2 linked regions of the Homo sapiens genome follow. Each later gene encodes a partner of the first gene's protein in a complex. Each region holds a gene or a part of one and is shown in the gene's direction. Other genes may lie near its edges. The genes, in order: SHH and DISP1.

What was found.
Region 2: the proteins of SHH (region 1) and DISP1 are in contact, whole or in part, in a cryo-EM structure (PDB 7E2I), measured with the Homo sapiens proteins. Residues at the interface, in NP_000184.1 of Homo sapiens: Pro49, Asn50, Val51, Thr55, Leu56, Gly57, Ala58, Arg68, Glu71, Phe73, Lys74, Leu76, Thr77, Pro78, Tyr80, Pro82, Arg96, Leu97, Gln100, Lys186; in NP_001356523.1 of Homo sapiens: Lys242, Thr244, Gly245, Tyr246, Lys247, Ala248, Glu260, His265, Arg299, Phe336, Gly337, Asp338, Leu339, Cys340, Gln341, Arg342, Thr343, Glu459, Arg899, His904, Asp906.

The regions. Positions count from the first base shown.
Region 1 is NC_000007.14:155,799,205-155,802,492, reverse strand, and holds the end of SHH (sonic hedgehog protein isoform 1 preproprotein), read left to right. Parts: 3' UTR 1-2,247; coding exon of another isoform or gene 2,248-2,486; 3' UTR 2,487-2,513; downstream 2,514-3,288.
Region 2 is NC_000001.11:222,999,779-223,006,539, forward strand, and holds the end of DISP1 (protein dispatched homolog 1), read left to right. Parts: intron 1-2,606; coding exon 2,607-6,194; 3' UTR 6,195-6,217; downstream 6,218-6,761. UniProt on the Homo sapiens protein: Functions in hedgehog (Hh) signaling. Regulates the release and extracellular accumulation of cholesterol-modified hedgehog proteins and is hence required for effective production of the Hh signal. Synergizes with SCUBE2 to cause an increase in SHH secretion.

The DNA.
Region 1 (3,288 bases):
GCTCAGAGTCTATTTTTCTACATGTCCCTCGTCCCGGCTGTCAGAAAGCAAACCTCTGTCCCCGCCATCCCTCCCTTCCATCTCCTGCTTCTCAGCAAGTGCAAACTCAAACGTGCTTCATGGGGGTCCACAAATTATATTTTTATACACAGAATTGTAAATTAGATTTTTTGAGAGATCAATACTTAACTGAATTACATTTCATTTTTGAAATAGTGTAAAATATGAAAATATATTATTTTAATTTAACTAGTTTCCGATGTAACAGCCATCTCCTCTGTTGTCTTTATGGTTTCATATTCCCTTTGTATTCACCATTTTGCCACATTCTTGGAAGCCAAGACTGTTACACACACAACATACACACACACTTTTCTTTTTCTTTTCTTTTCTTTTTTTTTTTTTTTTTTTTTTTTGGACAAACTGGAAGAACTGTTATTTTTAACTTCAAAGAATTTATTAGAAAATAATATTTTTTAAAAGCGCACATAGTGACGAGCCCACGAGGATGGAGCCTGCAGTTTGTACAGAGAAAACAAAGGATGTTTTTGCATTAATAAATTGAGAAATAACGCTGTAAATTTACTAAAATGTATTTTTGAATATTTTGTAATAGTTTTATAGAAATAAAATGTGCCATGCACAGAACGCTTAGTATCTAATAACTAAGAATTCCTGTTGCAGCCCTTTTTCTTTTAGTTTTTGGCTTCTTTGTTTGGGAAACCTAGCGCTGACAGGAGCTCCCAATATTCTATTTAGATGTGTTGCTTATACTGTGAACTCAGACTGACTGACTTAGGTAACCAAAGTAGGCACACAAACCAACTTGTTTCTTCTCATGGCTGGAGAAACCTCAGCTCTGTTTGTATTTATTGTGTGAAGCTCTTTCTACACTCCCAAAGGTTGGGAGTGCCATTCGTGGGGACTGTGCTGTCCCCCTCACCCCACCCCTTAACTAGCAAAGCCTGATGTGTAAGCCCAGAGGAGGTGGCCTGGGGATGGCCACCAACAACCTTCTCTTAGGACTCCTGTGTGTGGTTGCTGGGCAGACCCCTGGCCTGACCCTGTTTGTGCTTCTCTGATCTGTAGGGAGGAGGCTCATTGCTGCTTTCTGAGGTCCTGTTGTGTCCCTTCCAGAAAGCATCCTTAGAAGAGAGGACCCGGTTTGATCTTCTCTGAAGCTCCTATCCTCTTTTCTTGAGGGTCCCCTTAAATCTGAGTGGCAAGCCCACAGTGGCGAGGGCCAGTCGCTGGAATGTCGGGGCTGCTGTTGAGGTCCTCAGGCTACACTGGTTGTCTGTGTCACATGGCGGTCGGGCGTGGACTTTGATCCCTGTTGAGAGAGCATGCTGCTGTGGGCGCTGGGCTGGGGAAGGTCCTTCCATGCTTCATGCTGCCTTGGAGGTTTGGCCAAGAGGGTCTCTGCCCTTGGCGGTTGTCAGGGTCCCAGGTGGAGGACTACTCCCAGTTCTTTGGCTTACGGAAGGTGTCTGCCATGCTTTGTGCTTTGGGCCGAATCGTCTGAGCAGGCTGGGCCTTGGAAGAGTTGCGCTGCATGAGCTTGGGGCCTCCCAGCAGCTGCAGCCTGTGTAGAAGGTGGTCCAGGCTTAGGGAACAGGAGTGAACAGACTTCAGCCCCACCTGGCAGGGGCTGGCTCCCGAGGTTGGGCCCAGTCCCTGAGGGTCTGCTCTGCTACGGGTCTGCCCTTGAGTGGCCTTCCGTGGAGGGTGTGTGACCAGGTGGATGGCGCAGGGCCTCTGGAGCCCTCTCCTCAGGAGCAGTCCTCAGCCTTTTTCTGTAAAAGACTTTTCTTTGGTGTTCTAGGTGGTCAGCAGGTTCCAGGCTGGTGTTTACAATCTCGGAGGAAGTGCGATGGTTTCTGTTCTTTTGACAGTTCAGTCTGATTTCAAGTCAGTCGAAAGCGAACCAGAAGCACCGGGCACAGCAGCTCCTCTGGCTGTGTAGACAGACCTGGCAATGTGGCCGTGCAGCCCAGACGATCAGAGAGAAGCCAGGCGTTGACCAAGCCCCAAGGTGCCTGAGGCCATGGTGCAACTCTGCTGGTGACTGGGGCACCTTGGAGCAGAGCTTCACCCGGATGGGAAATCCTCACTCCTGGGTGGCACTCCCTCCTGGACAGGCCCGGTGGCAGAGTGTCCGTGCTGCTGGGTGCTGTCCCCAGCCCTCCTGGTCCATCTTCTTAAGATGCGTCCACTGCTTTATATTTAAAATTCTCTTTTTCACAGGCAAGGAAAGGAAACCACTGCTTAGAGACACTAGGTACAGGGCATCAAGAGGGTGCAGCCCAGCCCCGCCAGGACGAGGCGCCGACTTCTCATTCAGGGTTGACGGAGCCAAGAGTTTGTGCAAAATGTATGCATGGTGGTTGCTGCCAGCCTCCCTCATGACTAAATGCATATCTATTCCTGTCAAAACGTGTATCACAATGTACTTGAAACTGTTATCTTTGTGCTCTATTGTTTGAATAATTAAAGAAATTACAGAGACTCTCTTCAGTGTCTGTTATGTGGCAGAACCCCGCTCCCGAACTGTCATCTGTGTTTCTCATCGTCTTCCACGAGGTAGTGCTGGGACTGTGAGGGAAATTCTCATTGAGAGTGCAGACTCCATTCTCTCAATGGGTGGGTTTGGTCAGGCTTTGGGAATTTTTACTGGCGCAAGGAGGCAGGCACGTGACTCCCCTGTCTGAGGGAGTTGACAGAGCTGTCAGCATCGCACCCACGTGGGAAATATGGGGCAGACATGCAGGGAATACCGGTCAGTTACAAGATTTGGCAAGAAAGCAGCAGAGTGCCTGCCAGGGAGGCGGGCGGGCCTGCAGGGAACCAGCTCTTCCTCGGCGCACGCGCTCCGTCCTTCCGGATGGTGATCCACTCTAGGAGGCTGAGAAGCCCAGGAAGCGACTTCCGTATGACTTCTTACAAACGAGTCACAAAACCCTTCGTGAGCCCTGCCGTTTCCGGGCACTCCCTGGGATTTATGTTCCAGGACAGAGCTGGGCAAATTTTGGCCTCTGGGACAAATCTGGTCCGAGGGCTGTTTTCACACAGTCCCTGAGCTGAGACTGTGTTTACATTCTTAAAATGTTTAAAAACAAAAAATCTAAAGAAGACTGCTATTCTCTGACATGTGACAATTCTGTGAAACTCAAATTTCAGTGTCCATACATAAAGTTTTATTGAAACACACCCACACTCACTCACGTGTTGTCTGGAGTAGCCTCTCCACTAGCCCAGAGGAAAGCCACAGAAACCACCTGGCCCGCA
Region 2 (6,761 bases), on another chromosome or scaffold:
TGTTGGCATCCAACTCAGGGTAGAGAAAACCAGTCACGATGTCTTTTCTCTGTCCTTATTTCTTACCCTGTATGAGTTCTCGAAAACTGGTTTTCCAAAGGTTGACCATCAATCAGTACCATCTTTGAATTGGAGGACTGGCTCCCCAGTGACTTACTAGCACTCGTTTTTAATAGCAGCCATCAAAATAGCATTTAATCTGTGTTTATAATGTCTAACCGCTTAATCTTTGGTCAACTATACACATCTAAAAATGTGCTATTATTTGAAAAGGTTATTCAAGGACAGAATTCTATGCTTTCTCTCCCAGTTTTAGTTGGCAACTCCATGTCCTTTATCTTTGGCATTTGGTTATTTCAGCAACTACAGGTATTTTCCTTCTAGCTGATAATGGATTTTCATAATGGATACAGTTCATTTTCTTCCATTTGAAAACTGTCAGACATTGGGGTTGCATTACCTTTCATTCAGTTCATCAAGCTGACCCTAGTGGTTTGTATGTTACGTCTTTGTAAGGTAAAACTGGTAACCTGCCATGAAAACCAGTGAGATGCCATTCCAGGGTTTCCTGTTGTTGGGTGGTTCAGTTTTCCCTAAGTTAGCGTATGTGAATGTTTTTATCTGGAAACAGTCAAGTATGAATTATCCTAGTTTATGGAATGTTTACGATTGCTCCTCAAAAATGAGCTTTAAAATGAAGGCTTTGTTAAAGTAAATATTATTTTAGTACATTTGAACAAAAACCTTTTGGGTTCATTTTTCTTTACCCTCAATCTGTAGAAAAACAAACAACTTTTTATTATGGAAATTCTCCAGCATATACAAAAGTAGAGAAATAGTATAATGGACTGTCGAAATAGGACACCCAATTCCACAGTCTCAACACATGGCCAGTCCTGTTTCATCTATACCCCACCCCCACAGGATTAGTCCCAGGAAAGTATCCTGATAAACAGAGTTCAGGGATCATAGGTAACTTGGTTCTTGGGTAAGTCCCAGTTCTGAAGCAGTGATTCATGCCAGCTTCTGCTCTACTTTGAGAAGACATTTCAATACATGATTGATAAAGCCAGTTTAATCAAGGTAAAGAGTGTTTTTAATCCTACTAGAAAAAAAAAATATTCACTTCCTCTTTGAACTTTGGAGTTTCTTCCCTGGAACAGCCTTTGGTAAATAGAGATGAGGGAAACTGATAGGACCAGGTCATCTTTAGTTCTGGTTCTCCTAAAGAGAAGTCTCTGGTCAGGCTCAGGAGAAGAGGAATATTTCTTATTCTCACCTCAGAGAAGAGGGGCTACTCATCTAATTTACAGGATGGAATGGTTCAGACTTTAATCTAGCAAACCAGTGATGGAACAATTTTTCAATTTTTTATAACAATAGCCATAAGATGGAAAGCCTTCTCCAGGAATAGTGTTTTAAATGAAATACTGTCCACACCAAATCCAGAATTACCATACTTGCTAATGTGCAGCAGGTCCTCATTTACCAAAAGAGAAAGTTTTCAAAAAAAGGATTTTTGCCAATTTGAATAAACTTTATGGAAGAAATAATTAAATTCTTACTTAGGCATTTATTTTATTGTATATACCAATTTAAAAATCAGATATCAATCATATTTTAATCCAGAAACATTGCCCTTTTCTACTCATACTTCAGGAAACAATTTTATTCCAAACCTTTATGCTTCTTGACATCAGCACTTTTGATATTACTGGGGTCACTTTTTGATTCACCAAACAGTCTTTGTCTTAATCTGTTTGGGCTTCTGTGACAAAATACCTCGGACTGGGTAATTTATAAACAACAAAAATTTAATTCTTATAGTTCCAGAGGCTGAGAAGTTCAAGATCAAGGAATTAGCAGATTCAGTCTGGTGAGGACCTGTTCCTCATAGATGGGGCATTCTACGTGTCCTCATGACCTCTTATAAAAGCACTACTCCCATTCATGAGGGCTCCTCCCTTGTGATTTAGTCACCTTCCAAAAAGTCACACCCCCTAACACTAACACACTGGGGATTAGGTTTCAACTTGAATTTGGGAGGAGCACAAACATTCAGACCAAAGCAGTTCTCTAGGGAATATCATCTTTGCTTCTAACTGTGTTGACTGAAATATAGTACTTTAGTCACCAACAATTTCATGCTGATAACCAGAATTTTAGGCAAAACCACAAATTTGTTTCATATATCAAGTGTACGGTTTTCTTAATCCTATGCATGTATATACATAAGCTTCACAACCTGTCCATTTTATTGCTTTTTAAAGTGGCTTTGAAAAGGCTTGTTGACTAAGTAGGTGTTAATTTGATCTCCTTTTGTAAACAAAACTAGCATTGGTTGAAGTTGTTTCACACTTGCATGTCATCCCCAAACAGTAGTTTTTAATTCAGAATAAAGTAACCTAAAGGGCATCCTGTAACATGACGCCATTTAGGGGAAATTTCACCCTGTATTCAAACTGATTCCTAGTTTAAGTGGATAATTATTTAGCTTTTGTAACTTTCCCTGTCCCTCAAGATCACCTTAGTGCAGTCCTTTCCAGTTGTGAACGATTGTGAACCAATTTAAACTGTAGTCCTTCTGCTTGTCTCTATCTCTGCAGATCAGATCTCATCCCCAGTTTGGTGATCTCTGCCAGAGGACCACTGCTGCCTCCTGCTGCCCCAGCTGGACACTGGGAAACTACATCGCCATTCTGAACAATAGATCGTCCTGTCAGAAAATAGTTGAGCGAGACGTTTCTCATACCTTGAAGCTGCTTCGGACTTGTGCCAAACACTACCAAAATGGCACTCTGGGGCCAGACTGCTGGGACATGGCAGCCAGAAGAAAGGACCAGCTCAAGTGCACCAATGTGCCACGCAAATGTACCAAGTACAATGCTGTGTACCAGATCCTCCATTACTTGGTGGACAAAGACTTTATGACCCCAAAGACGGCTGACTATGCCACGCCAGCTTTAAAATACAGCATGCTCTTCTCTCCCACAGAGAAAGGGGAGAGCATGATGAACATTTACTTGGACAACTTTGAAAACTGGAACTCTTCTGACGGCGTGACTACCATCACCGGGATTGAGTTTGGTATCAAACACAGTTTGTTTCAGGATTATCTTCTAATGGATACTGTGTATCCTGCCATAGCCATTGTGATTGTCCTTTTAGTTATGTGTGTCTACACCAAGTCCATGTTTATCACTCTGATGACAATGTTTGCAATAATCAGTTCTTTGATTGTTTCCTATTTTCTCTATCGTGTAGTATTTCACTTCGAATTTTTTCCTTTTATGAACCTCACTGCCCTCATTATTTTGGTTGGAATTGGAGCAGATGATGCTTTTGTCCTGTGTGATGTTTGGAACTACACAAAATTTGATAAGCCTCATGCCGAAACCTCAGAAACAGTAAGCATCACCTTGCAGCACGCTGCCCTCTCCATGTTCGTCACCAGTTTTACCACTGCTGCTGCCTTTTATGCTAACTATGTTAGCAACATTACAGCAATCCGATGCTTTGGGGTTTATGCGGGGACAGCTATATTGGTGAATTACGTTTTGATGGTCACATGGCTTCCAGCAGTTGTTGTGCTGCATGAGCGGTATCTTCTTAATATATTCACTTGCTTCAAAAAGCCCCAGCAGCAAATATATGATAACAAAAGCTGCTGGACAGTGGCTTGCCAGAAGTGCCACAAAGTACTCTTTGCCATTTCAGAAGCATCTCGAATTTTTTTCGAAAAAGTATTGCCATGCATTGTCATTAAGTTTCGCTACCTTTGGCTGTTTTGGTTCCTTGCCTTAACTGTAGGTGGGGCCTACATTGTATGTATAAATCCAAAGATGAAACTGCCCTCACTGGAGTTATCCGAGTTCCAGGTGTTCCGGTCGTCCCATCCTTTTGAGCGTTATGATGCTGAATACAAAAAGCTTTTCATGTTTGAACGTGTTCACCATGGCGAGGAGCTCCACATGCCCATCACAGTAATCTGGGGCGTGTCCCCAGAAGACAATGGCAACCCACTAAATCCCAAGAGTAAAGGGAAGTTGACATTAGATAGCAGTTTTAACATCGCCAGCCCAGCTTCCCAGGCCTGGATTTTGCACTTCTGTCAAAAACTGAGAAACCAAACATTCTTTTACCAGACTGATGAACAGGACTTCACCAGCTGCTTCATTGAGACATTCAAACAGTGGATGGAAAACCAGGACTGTGATGAGCCTGCCCTGTACCCATGCTGCAGCCACTGGAGCTTCCCCTACAAGCAAGAGATTTTTGAACTGTGCATCAAGAGAGCTATCATGGAGCTGGAAAGGAGTACAGGGTACCATTTGGATAGCAAAACCCCAGGGCCGAGGTTTGATATCAATGATACTATCAGGGCAGTGGTGTTAGAGTTCCAGAGTACCTACCTCTTCACACTGGCTTATGAAAAGATGCATCAGTTTTATAAAGAGGTGGACTCGTGGATATCCAGTGAGCTGAGTTCGGCCCCTGAAGGCCTCAGCAATGGTTGGTTTGTCAGCAATCTGGAGTTCTATGACCTCCAGGATAGCCTCTCCGATGGCACCCTCATTGCCATGGGGCTGTCAGTTGCTGTTGCATTTAGCGTGATGCTGCTGACAACTTGGAACATCATCATAAGCCTTTATGCCATCATTTCAATTGCTGGAACGATATTTGTCACTGTTGGTTCTCTTGTCCTGCTGGGCTGGGAGCTCAATGTGTTGGAATCTGTCACCATTTCGGTTGCCGTCGGCTTGTCTGTAGACTTTGCCGTCCATTATGGGGTTGCCTACCGCTTGGCTCCAGATCCCGACCGAGAAGGCAAAGTGATCTTCTCTCTGAGTCGCGTGGGCTCTGCGATGGCCATGGCTGCCCTGACCACCTTCGTGGCAGGGGCCATGATGATGCCCTCCACAGTTCTAGCTTACACCCAGCTGGGCACCTTCATGATGCTCATCATGTGTATCAGTTGGGCTTTCGCCACCTTCTTTTTCCAGTGCATGTGCCGGTGCCTTGGACCACAGGGTACCTGTGGTCAGATTCCTTTACCTAAAAAACTACAGTGCAGTGCCTTTTCCCATGCCTTGTCTACAAGTCCCAGTGACAAGGGACAAAGCAAAACACATACCATAAATGCTTATCATTTAGATCCCAGGGGCCCAAAATCTGAACTGGAGCATGAGTTTTATGAATTAGAACCTCTGGCTTCCCACAGCTGCACTGCCCCTGAGAAGACCACTTATGAAGAGACCCACATCTGCTCTGAATTTTTCAACAGCCAAGCAAAGAATTTAGGGATGCCTGTGCATGCAGCTTACAACAGTGAACTCAGCAAAAGCACTGAAAGTGACGCTGGCTCTGCCTTGTTACAGCCCCCTCTTGAACAGCATACCGTGTGTCACTTCTTCTCTCTGAATCAGAGATGTAGCTGCCCAGATGCCTACAAACACTTGAACTATGGCCCACACTCTTGCCAGCAGATGGGGGACTGCTTGTGCCACCAGTGCTCTCCTACCACTAGCAGCTTTGTCCAGATCCAAAACGGCGTGGCACCTCTGAAGGCCACACACCAAGCTGTCGAGGGCTTTGTGCACCCCATCACGCACATCCACCACTGTCCCTGCCTGCAGGGCAGAGTAAAGCCAGCCGGAATGCAGAATTCTCTGCCTAGGAATTTTTTCCTCCACCCAGTGCAGCACATTCAGGCCCAAGAAAAAATTGGCAAGACCAATGTACACAGTCTTCAGAGGAGCATAGAAGAGCATCTTCCAAAGATGGCAGAGCCATCGTCATTTGTCTGCAGAAGCACTGGATCGTTACTCAAAACGTGTTGCGACCCCGAGAATAAACAAAGGGAACTCTGTAAAAATAGAGACGTGAGCAATCTGGAGAGCAGTGGAGGGACTGAAAACAAGGCAGGAGGGAAAGTGGAGCTGAGCTTGTCACAGACGGATGCAAGTGTGAACTCAGAACATTTCAATCAGAATGAACCAAAAGTCCTATTTAATCATTTAATGGGGGAGGCTGGTTGTAGGTCTTGCCCAAATAATTCACAAAGTTGTGGCAGAATTGTGAGAGTGAAGTGCAATTCTGTGGACTGTCAAATGCCAAACATGGAAGCCAATGTGCCTGCTGTATTAACACACTCGGAACTTTCTGGTGAAAGTTTGTTAATAAAAACACTATAATAAATGCAGCATTCAATTCAGAACCAGTGCCTCAATTATTCTTTTAACATGGAAGTAAAATCCAGAAGCTTAGAAAAGAAGCCCAAAAATACAGCAACAAGCATGTTTCACATTAACAATTTTAGAATATTTTTATATTCCGTAGGAACAACAAACTTACAAATCTGCTGAGTGCGTTAGGTTATTGGATTGGATGATTGTTGGATTTTATATTTTCAAAAAGTATAGTTGTTTTTTACATTTATGCCCAGCTTGAAAAATAACTGTCTCTCTTTCTACCCTCCCACTGCAGTGAGTCGGAGATTTAAAGTTTAAAGTTTCCGTTCTCCCGGGCCATCATATTCACCTGGTATCCTCATTCTAGTGTATTTCGTGGGCAGTAATCAGTACTTTTGATTGCTCAACATGAATACTAGGAATTGCTCTAATTTTAATAGAGCCAGTTCAGTTGGGATTCAAGAACTAAATTAAAACTTACATTTTTGGTGAGGCCTCATGTAAAAAATCAATTGCCAAGCACCTTAATAATGCATTCCACATGTCTGCTTTAGTAGACTTTACATGAAG